Linked DNA regions of Homo sapiens: region 1 is linked to region 2. Evidence: fine-mapped expression QTL. A gene starts in region 2. The other region holds a variant in brackets. All regions are shown on one strand. Distances are between the middles of the regions. Region 1 overlaps COP1 (COP1 E3 ubiquitin ligase). Region 2 holds the start of COP1 (COP1 E3 ubiquitin ligase).

Region 1 (8,340 bases), 250 kb after region 2:
TTTTTTGTACCTATTTAACATGATATAATATTTTTCTTTCAAATATTGATCTAGTAGGTGAAATTTTTTTTTAACCTAATATTAAACCAACTTTACATTCGCTGGAATAAGCCCAACTTGGTCAAGATTTATTCTCCTTATATATTGTTAAAATCAACTTGCTACTATTTTGTTTAGGATTTTTTCATTTGTCTTTATGAATAACATTGGCCTATAATCTTTTCCTTTTTTGCATTGTCCATGTCAGGTTTTGATTTCATGGGTATATTAACTTCATAAAGCAAATTAAGGAGTTCTTTCCTCCTTTGATGTGGAAAAATTTGTGTAATACGAAATTATTTCTTTCTTGAATATTGGCTGAACTCGTAGATGAAGTCATGTAAGCCTGAGGTAGAAATATTTTTGACTGTCGATTTATGAATTTAATACCTGTAGGATGATTCTTGCTTTCTATTTCTTCTTGATTAGTTGGGTAAGTTTTTATAGGAATTTTTCCACTTGGCTTAAATATTAAAATTTATTAACATAAAGTCTTTTCAGTTTCTTTTTTCTATAACATTATTTATTCTCATTCTGAGGGAAGTCATCAATTTAACGTAATGCTTAACATTTGGAGAAATAAATTTTAAAGAAGGGTTATATTCTGATTTTGTTTAATAGTTATCTTCTGGTTAATAAAAGGAGGAGAAATGTAGGGTGGAAATGCTTATCATAGTAAATAGCAAGGTTTATATATAAAACCATCTATATTGAACAGGGAGAGAGGAATGACAAAAATATTTACCTTTCTTTTTGATAATTCAGTGCCTTATTTTGGGGGAAATATTTAGCTTCATAGCTGAAATGGCTTTGATATTATACCTGAATGGTTACAGAGATCTCATAAATATAGTAGTGATAAGGGGTTTATATATTATGTTGGGAAATCAGAAAATATTTAAATCATGAATAATGACTTTTAATTGTTAAAGACCAATATTGAGTTTAAAGTTAACTTATAAAATACGTATTTGTTCTTGTGTGTTTGTTCCCAGCTTTTTAAAATTGATATTATTGAAATATAATTTACATAAATATAAACTACATACATTTTAAGAGTATTCAGTGAATTTTTACAAGTGTATACATCAGTATAACTACTACCTTAATTCAGTTATAACAACATTTTCATCACCCAAAAAGTTACCTTGTGTCACTTTGTAATCAGTCCCCTCCCTTCTCCACTACAAGCTACTGCTAATCCACTTTATGTTATCATAAGTTAAGTTTTGCTTATTCTAGGATTTCATATAACAGGAATGATACAGTATGTAATTTTTTGCACCTGGCTCCTTTTATTTAGCATGATACTTTGAAATGCTTGTGTTATTGCCTGTATCTGTAGTTCCTTCTTATTAGTAATCCATTTTATAACTATGCAACAAATTTTGTATCTATTCACCAATCTTTAATATTGCCCTTGTTTCCAGTTTTGAACTATTTTTAATAAAGCCGCTGTAAACATTCATAAATAAGTGTTTATGTGACTATATACCATCATTTCTTTTGGATAAATACCTAGGAGTGGCATTATGAGATTGTAGAGTAGTTGTAAGTTTAGCCTTATAAGAAACTGTCAAACCTTTTTCCATAGTTGTTGTATTACATTCATTGGTCACTTAACAATGGGGATACGTTTTGAGAAATGCCATTAGGTGATTTGATTTCATCATTGCACAAACATCATAGAGTGTACTTCCCAAACCTGGATGGTATAGCCTAGTACATACCTTAGCTATGTGGTATAGCCTGTTGCTCCTAGGCTACAAATTTGTACAGCATGTTACTACACTGAATAGTGTAGGCAGTTGTAACACAATGGGATTTGTGTATCTAAACACAGAAAAGCTATAGTAAAAATACAATATAAAAGGTAAAAAATGGTACACCTGCCTAGGGCATTACCATGAATGGAGCTTGGTGGAGTAGAAGCTGCTCTCGGTGAGTCAGGGAGTGAGTGGTGAGTGAACGTGAAGACCCAGACATTATTGTACATTACTGTAGACTTTATCAACACTGTATACCTAAGCTACACTAATTTATTTTAAAATGTTTTCTTTCTTCAATAATAAATTAACTATAGTTTACTGTAACTTTTTACTTTATAATTTTAATTTTTTTCACTTTTTGACTCTTTTGTAATAACTTTTAGCTTAAAACACAAACACATTGTACAGCTGTACAGATTTTTCCTTATTCTGTAAGCTTTCTTCCATTTTTAAATGTATTTATTTATTTTTACTTTTTAAACATTTTTTGTTAAGCTCATCAACATCACTGTCTTCTACATCTTGTCCCATCGGAATGTCTTCAGGGACAATAACACACATAGAGCTGTCATCTCCTATGGTAACAATGCTTTCTTCTGGAGTATCTCCTGAAGGACCTGCCTGAGCCTATTTTACAGTAACTTTTTTTGTTAATAAGTAGAAGGAGTATAATCTAAATTAATGATTAAGAAGTATAGTACAATAATCTTATTGGACCACCATCATATATGTGACCCATCGTTGACCAAAATGTCATTGTGCAGTGCATGACTATATTTTGCACTCCTGCCAGCATCCTAAAATCATTCCATTTGTTACATATTTTTGCCAACACTTGATATTGTCACTTTAAGAAAAAGATTTAGTTGTTCTAGTAAGTGTGGATGGTATTTTAAAATTTTTGATGAAGTCCAATTTATCAGGGTTTTTTTTTTCCTTTATTGTACATGTTTTTTGCATCCTAAAAAATAGTTGCCAACCCAAAGATTTTCTCTGATTTTTTTTCTTGAAGTTTTATTGTTTCAGCTTTTACATGTATGTCTTAGATCTATTTAGAATTAATTTTGGGAATGGTATGATAGAAGGATTGAAGTTTACTTTTTTCTGTATATACAGTTGTTTTAGCACACATATGGTTGTTTCACATACCTGCAGTTGTTTCAACAGCATTTGTAAAAATTACTCTATTTTTTTTTTAACTTGCCAAGTTGTTTTGAAATTCAGTTGATTATGGATGGATCTGTTTCTGGAATTTCTTTTCTGTGCCTTTGATTTATATGTCTATCCTAATAATACTACACTGTATTGATTCCTAATGCTTTTATTAACAGTAGAACTTCAAATCATGTTGTGTAAGTCCCTAGTTTTATTTTTTCTTTTTCAAAATTATTTTAACTATTATAATGTCTTTGCTTTTTCATTTAAATTTTTGAATCACTTTGCCAGTTTCTACTAGAAAAGTTTGTATGATTTTAATTGGAATTGCATTGAGCCTATAGATAATGTAAGAAGAATTGGCATTGTGACACTATTGAGTCTCTGGTCTATGAACATGGTATAACTGTCAATTTATTTAGGTATTCTTTAACATCTCTAAGCATTGTTTGGTAATTTTTAGTATGTAGGCCGTGTGTGTGTGTGTGTGTGTGTGTGTGTGTGTGTGGTTTGTCTCTAAATGATTCATGCTTTTTATGGTACTATAAATGGTATTTTTTAAATTCTATTTGCTTATCATTTATTGTTAGTTTATGGAAGTGAACTGATTTTGGTATAATTGACTTTGTGTCTGACAATCTTGCTGAAGACAATTTATTTATTCTAGTGGCTTATTTTTAAGGTACATTAGGATTTTCCACATAGGCCATCATCTCTTTTGCAAATGAAGACAGTTTTCTTTTTTCAGATCCATATGCTTTTTCCTTTTCTTGACTGTCGCACTGGGTTGTACCTCTAATACAGTGTTGAATACAAATGGTGAGAGAAAGCATGTTCACCTTGTTCCTAGTCTGAGAGAGAAAGGGTTCAGTATTTCACCACTAAGTA[T/G]GATGTTAGTTGTAAGTTTTTCATAGGTATTCCTTATCACCTTGAAGAAGTTCCTTTCTATTCTTAGTTTGCTGAAGGGATGATGAATGCTCTCAAGTGCATTTTCTGTGTTGTGATTACATTACTTTTTCTTTTTTTTGTTTTGAGGCAGGGTCTCACTCCTGTCACCCAGGCGAGAGTACAGTGACACAATCACAGCTCACTACAGCCTTCCCAGGCTCAGGTGATTCTCCCACCTCAACCTTCTGGGTAGCTGGGACTACAGGTGCATGCCACCACACCCATCTAATTTTTTGTGTTTTTGATAGAGAGGGTTTCGCCATATTGCCCAGGCTGGTCTCACACTCCTGGACTCAAGCAATCCACCTGCCTTAGCTTCCCAGAGTGCTATCACAGGCATGAGCCACCCTACCTGGCCTTTTCTATTCTCTTTACATAGTGAATTATATATATATATTTTTTAATGTTGAAAACCAATTTTAATATCTGGATGAATTCCATTTAGACATGATGCATTATTCTTTTTGTATATGACTGAATTATCTTTACTTGTATTTTGTTAAGGTTTTTTACATCTGTTTATAAAAGTAGTTGGTAATTTTATTTGTTTTTGTAATGTCTTTCTCTGGTTTTGTTTGATTTACAAGCTGAGTTTGGAAATGTTCCTTAGTCTTCATTTTTAACAACTTTTTCTTTCTTCTGTCATAATTGGGAATTTGTATCTTTCATAGAATTTGTTCATTTCATTACCTGTCAGTTTTATTGACATACAATTGTTCATGTTTATTTTCTAATTATTCTTTTAATATCTATAGAATATCTAGTGATATCCCATAATTTATTACTGATATTGTTAACTTACATTTTCTTTTTGTTAAGGCGTATCAATTTTATTGATTTTTTTCAATGAATTAACTTTTCATTTCAATACTTTTTTACCTTTTTCTGGTTTTATTTTGATTTCTGCTCTTCATGACTGTCATTCTTGTACTTACGTCATGTGTAACTTGCTCTTTTCCTAGCTTCTTAAGGTGCAAGTTACTATATCATTAATGTTCAACCTTCCTGCTTTACTAATAAGTATTGGAAGCTATAACTTTCTAGGCATTGTTTTAGGTGCATTACACAAATTTTGATATGTTGCATTTTTATTATCTTTTAGTTCAAAATGGTTTCTCATTTCCATCCCTGGGTTATTTGGGAGTATATTTTTAAATTTGCAAATACTTGTGGATTTTTCCAGATTTCTTTTTGTTATTCTTTTCTACTTTAGTTCTGTTTCTTCAGAGAACATACTTGTATGATTTTAGCCCTTTAAATTTACTGTGATTTGTTTTATGGTCTGACACATCTTTGTTGGGGACTAGTACGCATGCATTTGAAAAGAATGTGTATTCTGTCATTTAAATAAAACTTTCTGTAAATGTCAGTTAGTTCAGTTTGGTTTTTATGCTATTGTTTAAGTCTTTTATATGGTTATTGATTTTCTCTCTACTTAGTCTTTGAATTATTGAAAGGTGACTGTTAAAAGTTCCAAACATGAGTCAATTTATTCTATTTAGTTTTGTCAGTTTTGGCTTTGTTTTAGATATATATGTATATAGGAGTTTTTTTTTTTTTTTATAAGTTGACCCTTATTTAATTATGAAATACCTGTCTTTATCGCTGGTCAAATTTCTTGTCCTGAAGTCTACTTTTTCTGATATAGCCATTCCAGCTTTCTTACGATTAATGTTTGCGTGGTGTATCTTATCTGTATTTTTATGTTTAAAGTGTTTCCTTTTTTTATTTTTTTAAGACAGGGTCTCACTTTGTTGCTCAAGCTGATCTCAAACCCCTAGTCTCAAGCAATCCTCCCACCTCAGCCTCCCAAAGTGCTGGAATTACAGGCATGAGCCACCGCGCCCAGCCTAAAGTGTATTTCTTAGGGACAGCATAGAGTTGAATCTTGCTGTTTTATCCAGTCTTATAATCTCTGCCTTTTAATTATAATATTTAGACCCCTTATACTTAATTATCAATACAGTTGGTTTTATGTCTGTCATATTTTTTGTCTTCTCTAAGTTCCTATGTTCCTCATTTCCTTTCTTTTTTTTGAGTATTTTTATAATATTTTTTCTCCTTTACTAGCTTATTAGGTATATACTGTTTCTTGTATTTTTTAATGGTTTCTCTAAAGTTTATAATATGTTTAACTTTTTACAGTCTGTCTTCAGATTATATGATACCACTTTATAATGGAAGAATCTTATAACATTATACTTCTATTCTCCCCTTTTATTATTTGTGCTTTTGTTGTCATGTATATTTACTTGTGTTTGTGTTATAATCACCTTAAAGCACTGTTATTATTTTTCCTTAAAATAGGAAATTATCTTTTAAAAAAACTTAAAAACAAGAAATCAAATATCTTTTATATTTATCTACCTAGTCACCATTTCTCACAATATTCATCCCTTATTTATTTATTGAGACAGAGTCTTGCTTTGTTTCCCAAGCTGGAGTGCAGTGGTGCAACCATAGCTCACTGCAGCCTCAAACTCCTAGGCTCAAGAGATCCTCCCGCTTCAGCCTCCGGAGTAGCTGGGACTAGAGGCATGCATGCATCACCATGCCTGGTTAATGTTTTTTTTTATTTTTAGTAGCAACAAGGTATTACTCTGTTGCCCAGACTGGTCTCAAACTCCTGAGCTCAGATGATCCTTCTACCTCAGCCTCCCAAAGTGCTGGCATTGCAGGTGTGAGCTACCATGCCCACCTTATCCCTTTTTTAGATCAGAGTTTTCATGTAGTATAATATTCCTTCATCCTGAAGAACTTCCTTTAACAATTTCTTACAGCGCAGGTCTGTTTGTGAAAAATTATCTCAGCTTTATTTTATCTGAAAATATCTTTATTTTGACTTTAATTTTGTGTATCTCAATGGATGGCTTTCTTGTTTATCATCTTTTTTTTTTTTTTTTTGAGATGAAGTCTTGCTCTTGTCGCCCAGGATGGAGTGCAATGGTGCCATCTTGGCTCACTGCAACCTCTGCCTCGCAGGTTCAAGCGATTCTCCCACCTCAGCCTCCCGAGTAGCTGGGATTACAGGCTCCTGCCACCACGCCCAGCTAATTTTTGTATTTTTAGTAGAGATGGGGTTTCACCATGTTGGCCAGGCTGCTCTCAAACTCCTGACCTCAGGCGATCCGCCTGCCATGGCCTCCCAAAGTGCTGGGATTACAGGCGTGAGCCACTGCGCCTGGCCTCTTGTTTGTCATCTTAAAGATGCTGTCCTATTGTCTTCTGGCTTGCATTCTTGCTGATGGGAAATTGGCGATCTTTCTCTTTATGTAATGTGTCTTTGTTTCTTTGGCATTTCTACAGATTTTCTCTGTTTCTTGTCTTCAGCAGTGTAACTGTGGTGTGCCTTGATGTGGTGTTGTGCTTCTTTCTGCCAGAAATTGTTAAGCTTCTTAGATTTGTGGGTTTATAGTTTACAAATTTGAAACATTTTAGTCTTAACGTTTTCATATATTTTTTTCTCTTCCTTCTTTGGGACTCCAATTATACATTTATTAGGTTGCATATTGCCCAATAGGTCACTGAGATGCTAATCTCTTTTTCCTCTCATGCTTTTTTCCTGTCTGCTTCAGTTGTAATTTTGGAGGTGTTACCAAATTTTTTGATGTTTTATTCCTCACTTGTCTCATCTGTTGTTATGTCCATCTCCTTACCTGCTTTGTGGTCCAGAAATTGCCTCTCAGTAGAAAACCAGGGTGATTATAGGACTCACTTCATTTGTTTCTTTTCTCTCAAAGATCACAGTCCTGTACTGCCTGTGGTCCAGTGGTATCTTACATATTTTTTTCAGTTTTCCAGTTGTATATGGTAGGAAAACAAATTTAGTCTGTTTACTCTGTTATGGCCAAAAATGGAAGTTTTTATATATATATATATATATATATATTCACGTATCTTATATTTAAATACATTGTATATACTTATACCTATACTAAAATTAATTTACATTTAAAATCAGTTACATCTATCTCTATGAATAAATCCACCAGTTGCTGAGTGAATAACTGTTCATTTCTCAACTTGTCAGGATTTTATTTTATTATATTTTATATATTTATTTATTTATTTATTTTTGAGATGGAGTTTTGCTCTTGTTGGCCAGGCTGTAGTGCAGTGGCATGATCTTGGCTCACCATAGCCTCCACCTCCCGGGTTCAGGCGATTCTCCTGTCTCAGCCTCCCAAGTAGCTGGGATTACAGGCATGTGCCACCACGCCTGGCTAATTTTTTTTGTATTTTTAGTAGAGATGGGGTTTCTCCATGTTGGTCAGGCTGGTCTCAAACTCCCGACCTCAGGTGATCCGCCTGCCTTGGCCTCCCAAAGTGCTGGGATTACAGGTGTGACCCACAGCGCCATCCAGATTTTTAATGTATTGTCTATAATGACCCTTTTTAAGCAAGTCAATAAAGATAAAACTATTTTAGT
Region 2 (8,340 bases):
TCCTATTTGTTACTTCTCCTAAGTTGTCTTCCTTCTTGTGTGTTGTGTGTGTTTCACCATGCTTCCTCTTTTTTTCTTCTGCTTTCCCAGAAGATCTTGCCAGTAGAAATTAATAAGGACTGTGTACTTTCAGTCATTACAATTATGTATTCAGCCAGTACATTTATCTGGTACAAAAATGAAGCTCTATTGCATCACATACTCTCAGCTTCTTTTTGTGAATTTAGATTTTATAAAAAATACATTCCAAAGAGGTAATACTAAGAACTGATGATTTTTTTTTCTTTCCCCCTAGGAGACTTCTCAGTTGGGGTCATACTACTTTCTGTCTCAGCCCATTTTCTGCTGCTATAACAGAATACAACAGACTGGGTAATTTATAAAGAAAATAAATTTATTTCTCACAGTTGTGGAGCCTGGGAAGTCCAAGAGCACGGTGCCTGCATATGGGGAGGGTCACCTCATGGTGAAAGGCCCAAGACAGCATGAGAGACAGAGAGGCAAGATGGGAGCCAAACTTATCCAGTTATTAGGAACCCACTCCTGCAATAACTAACAGTACTCCTCATGACCTAATCATGAGACCTCTTGAAGGTCTCAACTCTCAACACTGTTACAATGGCAATTACATTTCAACCTGAGTTTTGGTGGGTACATTCAAATCACAGCAGTCCTCAGCATAAGCAACTTGGAAGGAAACTCTCACTCTGTCGCCCAGGCTGGAGTGCAATGGCACGATCTCGACTCACTGCAACCTCCACCTCCTGGGTTCAAGCCATTCTCCTGTCTCAGCCTCCCAAGTAGCTGGGATTGCAGGCATGCGCCACCATGCCTGGCTAATTTTTTACATTTTTAGTAGAGATGGGGTTTTACCATGTTGGCCAGGTTGTTCTCAAACTCCTGACCTTGAGTGATCCACCCACCTCAGCCTCCCAAAGGGCTGGGATTACAGGCGTGAGCCATTGCACCTGGCCTGGAAGGAAACTCTTTCACATTCTCTACATTATCAATCACAGGACAGTGTTGTGTTTTTTGTTTTTTTTTTTTTTTGAGACGGAGTTTCACTCTGTTGCCCAGGCTGGAGTGCAGAGGTGCGATCTCAGCTCACTGCAGCCTCTGCCTCCTGGGTTTCTTGGGTTCAAGCAATTCTCCTACCTCAGCCTTCCAAGTAGCTGGGACTACAGGAGCATGCCACCACTCCCAGCTAATTTTTGTATTTTTTTAGTAGAGTCGGGGTTTCACCATGCCAGCCAGGCTGGTCTCAAACTCCTGACCTCGAGTGACCCACCTACCTCAACCTCTCAAAGTACTGGGATTACAGGCATGAGCCACCGCACCCGGCCAATCACAGTGTTTTCAAAGTGTTAGTCACTTGCCTCAGATTCACCTGGGTGCTGGTACAAATGCATATTCATAAGGTGGAGCTCAGAAATCTGGTTTTTAACAAGCTCTCTAGGTGATTCTTCTGGGCACCGATGTTTGAGAATCATGGGGGAAGCAATATGTTTAGCAAATAATAGGTCCATAATAACTATTTGATGATGATATACTATGCCCTTAGTAACTTCCAAATGTCTCTCATGTGCTGAACTTTCTTCTGTGCCTTAACCCTGTGTTTTCGACCACTGCCTATTCTTTGAGTTTTTTTCATCCCACACTCATTCAAAACATTCAAAACTAAACCATCTACTGGACACCTCCAATCTTGTCACTACGTTATTGTTACCCAGAAGTCATGTTTGGAGTCATTTCTGTTTGTGTTTCATCATTTTTACTTAATCAACATATTGACCATTGTGTCAAGCACTGATATAGACAGTGATGAATATGACAGATATGGGTCATACTCTCAAGGATGGTAAAGACAGTTTTACAGAGAGTAATTAAACTTTATACCATCAGTTCCTTAGTGTTTTTCTCAGAATATTCCCTTTCTTTGTCACCATCCTAATCTAGAATCTTATCATTTACGCTCGAACTGCTTTAATTTTTCCTAGTCTTTGTTCCTAATTTCCCACCTCTTCTGAAAGATTAATCTCCTAAAAAATTAATCTTTAAAACATTATAAATGTTTTTACCCTACTTAATGCCTAATTTCCGTGAAAGCTGTCGTAATCAAAATGGAATTATATGGGCTCGGTGGTACACACCTACAGTTCCAGCTACTTGGGAGGCTGAGGCAGCAGGATTGCTTGAGCCCAGGAATTTGGGGGCTGTACTGTGCTATAGACTTGCCTGTGAACAGTCACTGCATCCCAGCCCCATCTCTTAAACAAAAGGGGGTGGGGGGCCCCATCTCTTAAACAAAAGGGGGTGGGGGGCCCCATCTCTTAAACAAAAGGGGGTGGGGGGGCCCCATCTCTTAAACAAAAGGGGGTGGGGGGCCCCATCTCTTAAACAAAAGGGGGTGGGGGGCCCCATCTCTTAAACAAAAGGGGGTGGGAGGTAGTCACTAATATATTTTTTAAAACACTGAAAAATAGATTCAGAGGTCATGAAGAGAAGGGGTCTCATGCTTGCACACCTGATGACAAAAACTATCACAAAAACCTGCAAAAGCCACAATCTTTTTTTTTTTTTTGAGATGGAGTCTTGCTCTGTTGCCCAGGCTGGAGCACAGTGGCACGACCTTGGCTCACTCCAACCTCCGCTTTCTGGGTTCAAGCGATTCTCCTGCCTCACACTCTCGAGTAGTTGGGATTACAGGTGCATGCCACCACACCCGGTTAATTTTTGTATTTTTAGTAGGGACAGGGTTTCGTCATGTTGGCCAGGCTGGTCTCGAACTCCTGACCTCAGGTGATCCACTCGCCTTGGCCTCCCAAAGTGTTGGAATTATGGGCCTCAGCCACCGCACCTGGCCAAAAGCCACAATCTTACACAAAAAATACTTCCGCAAAAACATCTGCCCAGCAACTTCCTGTCCAGTTTCCGACTGGTGTCACCTTGTTATTGATCTTCGTAGCCAAGGATAACGGTTTAAAAACAATTATGTAATTCTCATTTTTTTTTAAATTTTAAAAACCTTTGCCTTCCTTTACCTCCTTGAATACGCACGTAGTTTACTAAGTCATGAGTATTTTCACACTTTATTCCCAAATAAATATATAAGAATCATAGAATGATAGAATTGAAAAGGATAAAATCACACAGTTGTTTCTAACTCCCACCCCTTAGAATGCGGCAAATGAAAAAAATTTTTTTTTTTGAGACAGGGTCTCTGTCTCACAGGCTGGAGTGTAGGGATCTCCGCTCCCTACAGCCTCAACCTCCCCAGCTCAAGCAATCCTCCCATGTCAGCCTCCCGAGTAGCTGGGACTACAGGCCTGCTGCCACCATGCCCAGCTAATTTTTTGTACTTTTTGTAGAGACGGGGTTTCGCTATCTTGCCCAGGCTGGTCTCTAACCTCAGGTTCAGCCTGATCCTCACCTCCAGGCTCAGGTGATCCGACCCCCTAGGCCTCCCAAGGTGCTGCGATGACAGGCATGAGCCACCGCGCCCGCCTATAATCAATTTTCAATATTCTAAAAAAGCCTACCAGAAATTGTATATTTTCTGGTGGTATTAAATGCTAGGTTTCCTTGTTTTGTGCTAGAATTATATCAGATCCACAATAAACCTAGGTTCCGACTGAGCTGGGTCTGATTGAGCAAAATCTGTTTTCCCATTATTGTTATGTTCAATTTGGCAAACAGCTTTTCAAAATATAGGAGTGAAGTCGTGGTCGAACTAATAAAATTGGTAACACTTGCTACAATGTTTGCAATTCGCAGAAAACTTCACTGACTTCATCTTAACTTATTCCTCACAAAGCTGTGGAATCACCATCAGTAGAGCAGGAGTCGTTGGCTCAATGCAGTGCTGTCTGCAACCGCTCGGAGCTTCTAGGTTCTTTCCGTGGGTCTCCAGCTTATGAGCACCTACATTCCGCGATTCGGAAGCACCTGCCTACCCCTCAGAAGAGAGAGACAGCTCCTTCTTCCCGTTCCGGAATGTGGTGCGTTCGCACGCATGCGTGACACGGCTACTCCGCGCTTGCGCCGATATTCTCCGCTTGGGGCGGATACCCTGGGTGACCCGTGAGCGTCCGCGCCCGGCGCGCGCCTGCGCAGTCGCTTTTCGAGAGTTTCCGCCCGCTACGTTCCCGTCTTTCAAACCACCCCACCACCTATACCATTCATTCCAGTCTCCTCAATTCTTTCACTGTATTAAGACGGCCTGCCCTCTGGCACGTTTTCTGGAACGAAAGCGGCTTGGGACAGACAGACTCCCTTCGCCAGGGAGCCCCGACCCCGAGGGCGCGCCCTGAGCGTCTGAGCGCAGCCCCGCTGCGTCCCCAGTTGTATCCCCCGCCACGCCCGCCTCTTCCGCCGCTCGCGCGCGCGCGCACGGCCGGCCACGGCGCGCCGGGGTTGGCTGCTACAGGGACCGCGGTGGCGGCGGCGGCCTCGACAGCGGTAGTGCCTTCTACTCCGCTTTTTTAGTTTCCTCCGCCCCCTCCCGTGGGACGCTGTTGTGTGGCTGCCTTAAAAAAAAACGCAACTTTATTGTTCCTCAGCCCCACCTCCGGCTCGGCGGGCGTCCTCAGGATGCACTGAGGCTGAGGGGAGGGGAGGCGGCGGAGGGTCGAGGTCGCGGTCCCTCTCCTCCGAGCGCCCGGCTGGAGGGGAGGGAGTCACGATGTCTGGTAGCCGCCAGGCCGGGTCGGGCTCCGCTGGGACAAGCCCCGGGTCCTCGGCGGCCTCCTCGGTGACTTCCGCCTCCTCGTCTTTATCCTCTTCCCCGTCGCCGCCTTCCGTGGCGGTTTCGGCGGCAGCGCTGGTGTCCGGCGGGGTGGCCCAGGCCGCCGGCTCGGGCGGCCTCGGGGGCCCGGTGCGGCCTGTGTTGGTGGCGCCCGCCGTATCGGGTAGCGGCGGCGGGGCGGTGTCCACGGGCCTGTCCCGGCACAGCTGCGCGGCCAGGCCCAGCGCCGGCGTAGGAGGCAGCAGCTCCAGCCTAGGCAGCGGCAGCAGGAAGCGACCTCTCCTCGCCCCCCTCTGCAACGGGCTCATCAACTCCTACGAGGACAAAAGCAACGACTTCGTATGGTGGGTTTGAAGAGCACTCCCTCCTTGTCCCTAAATTATGAGTTTCTGCCGCTTAGGCTTGGGGGCGGGGGGTCTGGTGTGGGGGTGGCTTGTTGGAGAGCTTGGGATACTGGTGCTGTGGTGGTGTCTGCAGAGGGAATCGAGCGTTTGCAGGCATTCGAGCTCCTGGTTGGTGGGGTGAAGGAATGTTGGAGTAGCGAGGCAGGGTGGGGATAATAAAGAGGTAGGTAAGTGTTGCTGAGGAGGAAGTGAAGGGAGTTTAACGAATGACGAGGGAAGAGGTGGAAGGTCAAATAAATGGTTTTGGATAACAAAGTTGGCAGAGAGGTTGAGTCTTAAAATTTTTGCCTCTCTGATGAATTGAACACTCAGTCAATCAGGAGTCCTTGTTGAGATGAATGAAATTTGCAAATGGAGAGGACTAAGCTTCCTCGGATGCAGAGGGGTGGAGTTGGTCAAAATTTATTTGAAGTATGGTAGATGATGCTGTAAACATAAGCATGGATGTCTTATAAAGACATGCTTTTTATAATAATGTAAGTACCTATCGTATGTATGTGTAAATATCTTCTTCCATTTCAAAGGATGGGCCACTTAGGAATCGGCTGTTGAGACGACTGTAGTCAAAGTCTGTTAACAGATTTTTCACTTCTCCACCAAGTGTCTTGAAAAGAGAGAACCACGTTTGTTAAATAACATCCCTGTGTCAGATGTAACTGTACTATACTGGATAACAGAGTATACTGGAACTTCTGACTTGAGAAATGCTAGGTATAGACATTTTGTCGTCATAGTTGGCATCTTGAATGATACAGAGTAACATTTAGTCATGACATTTGGGATAGAGAGGTTAGTCATATGAAGTGAAAGGTGGTGTTGATTGTCTTGCTTGAGAGTGTTTTGGAATTTTTATTGGATTTTAGATATTGGTAGGATTATGAGAAGTAATTGCTGTTAGCTAGCTGCTTAAGAAGTGGTAGTGTTTCGTACTTTCCTTTTTGAGGAAATTGTTGATCAAATATTAGGCATGTAGGAAGTTGGCTGCTTGCACAGTCATTATGAGGGAAGTTGATTCAGATCAGGGTTGAAGATGGTCTGAGTTGGTGTTATTAAATAAGATAGAGCTAGAAGTTGGAACTGTTAGGAAAGTTATTGATTAGACTTACGGTTTCTAGTTCCTGCAGAAAAATGATGTCTTTATTCACCTTTCTGCTTTTTTGTACGTTATTCTTTATCAGAATTAATCTGTTTTTCATTGAACATTTGGGCTGTAATATGATTGTTATTTATAAATAAGCAGTTTATGGTTGGGGCTGAGAAGTGTTTGCACTTCTACACAGTCGATAGTGCGAGTAGCTAATAAGCTAATAAAACAAAGTGGGGTGTGCATAATTTAGTTGTCTTTTTAGCCACTGTTTGCATTTTAATTTTTAGTATACTTAACGAACACAAACATGTTAGCCTCCGTGTAAGTACACTAAAATAAAGTAAAAGATGTGAGGAATAAGGAATCGATCATTGTCATTCAAGAGATACTTGTATGACATTCACTGTCGGCCAGGCACCATATGAAGTTCAGTGCACTGCAGGCTATGCTATAGGGAATTGGGAACTCTTTTTTTAAAAGAGTAAAAATTTGTATTTGAGACGGAGTCTTGCTCTGTCACTCAGGCTGGAGTGCAGTGGCACCGTCTTGGCTCACTGCCACCCCCGCCTCCCGGGTTCAAGCAATTCTCCAGCCTCAGCCTCCCGAGTAGTAGCTGGGATTACAGGCACCTGCCACCACACCTGCCTAATTTTTTGTATTTTTAATGGAGACGGGGTTTCACCATGTTGGCCAGGCAGGTCTTGAACTCCTGACCTCAGGTGATCTGCTCGCCTCGGCCTCCCAAGGTGCTGGGAGGGATTACAGGTGTGAGCCACCGTGGTCCTGAGTATTTCACTTTCTAAGAATCTCATTAGTTAATTATTTCTTTTTCTGGTGAGGTTTAATATTCAGAAGAATTAATTAATGAGAATCTGATTTAAAACTCAAGCCAGGTTTGATTTTGTCCAGACTCTTGGGGTAGGATGATATGGATTAGGCAAGGCCCAAGGAATCCTTTTTTTCTTTTTTTTTCCCCCCGTTTGGCTGTGGGTCTTGTCTTGTATGCCCCAAGGTCAAACTGTGAACCAATTCAAATTATTCTATGCTTTTATATTTAAACGAAGCCCAAGTTCAAATAATGATAATTTCTTATTCATTTATGGGACATTTTAAAGATATGCTTATGCTTCACGTTTTATTTTATCCTTAGAACAATTCTGTGATGTTATATATAACTTATTTTTAATACAATACTAATTATTTTCTCATTGAGGCACAGAGAAGTAATTTTGTTTGTCGTTGGACAGGTAAGGACAAAATGAGAACTCAGATTTCCCAGTTCTCAACTTTGTGTTTTCTTTGTGTGCAATTAGAGAGTTTCAGATCTGTAAGTTCGAGTACATGTATTTAGCCCAGTGGTTCTTAAACGGCACAGATTGGAGGAGAAGCAGCTGTTTCATAATCATATGAGATAAATGTTTTATCCCTCACCACTCCCTTTTCTTACCTGCCCACATCCCAAGAAGACGTACCTGAATTGGAGGCTGGGGTGGGTGGTGTAATTTGCATATGCTCCCCTGGTGATAGGGACCTGTCCTTCTCCCCTCCTTGAGAACTGTTGATTTAAATAGTCACGTACCTAATTTCAGTAATAAACATTGGCCTCTCCTGACTTATATTTGAAAGTAAGTTTATATTTAATTGAAGAATTCATAAACATTTTAGGGGTTTAGGTTGCATTTTTATATTTTATTTTACACAAAAGATTGAAGGTATTATCAAGTTGAATAATTTTAACAGTGTTTTATTGATGGAGAATCTAATACAGGACAGTAGTATTTAGCTTGACATTGGATACATTTTCAACATTCAGAGGAAGTCTTTGTTATTTTGTTTTTTGCAAAATTTTCTTACGGTTCATTTAACTAGACTGTGAGTCTGGTCTGTATTTGAAAGATGACTTCTGTTTTTTATACGGACTCCTTTTTTAAACAATTCTATAACTACTGCCTTTGTATTAGCTTTTCCAGCTATCTCAAATGAAGTTTTCTACCTCTGCAAGTCCCAGCCATTCTTGCAGCAGAAGTATACGTTTGCATGTAGATAGTAAGCTCTTTATGAGAAGGTTGACTTTTTTTCTTTTTTTTTGAGACGGAGTCTCGCTC

What was found. PIP is the estimated chance that this variant, and not a neighbour inherited with it, causes the effect. A credible set is the group of variants that fine-mapping cannot tell apart.
Region 1: its variant is the best candidate, but not a certain one, in a credible set for the expression of COP1 in whole blood (INTERVAL, PIP 0.85).

Annotation. Positions count from the first base shown.
Region 1 is chr1:175,950,898-175,959,237 of GRCh38, reverse strand. The region is part of intron 18 of COP1 (COP1 E3 ubiquitin ligase); the gene reads left to right. Among named protein-coding and RNA genes, the nearest start is that of MIR1843, 13 kb to the left of the region's middle. The variant T/G (reference allele first, on the strand shown) is at 3,852.
Region 2 is chr1:176,203,320-176,211,659 of GRCh38, reverse strand. COP1 (COP1 E3 ubiquitin ligase) reads left to right here and starts at 4,374. Exons shown (of 20, transcript NM_022457.7): 1 at 4,374-5,088. The coding sequence starts at 4,682. It overlaps COP1-DT (COP1 divergent transcript), which reads right to left and starts at 3,995. Exons shown (of 5, transcript NR_185981.1): 1 at 3,789-3,995. RefSeq lists an enhancer at 3,767-3,836 and silencers at 4,337-4,546, 4,577-4,936.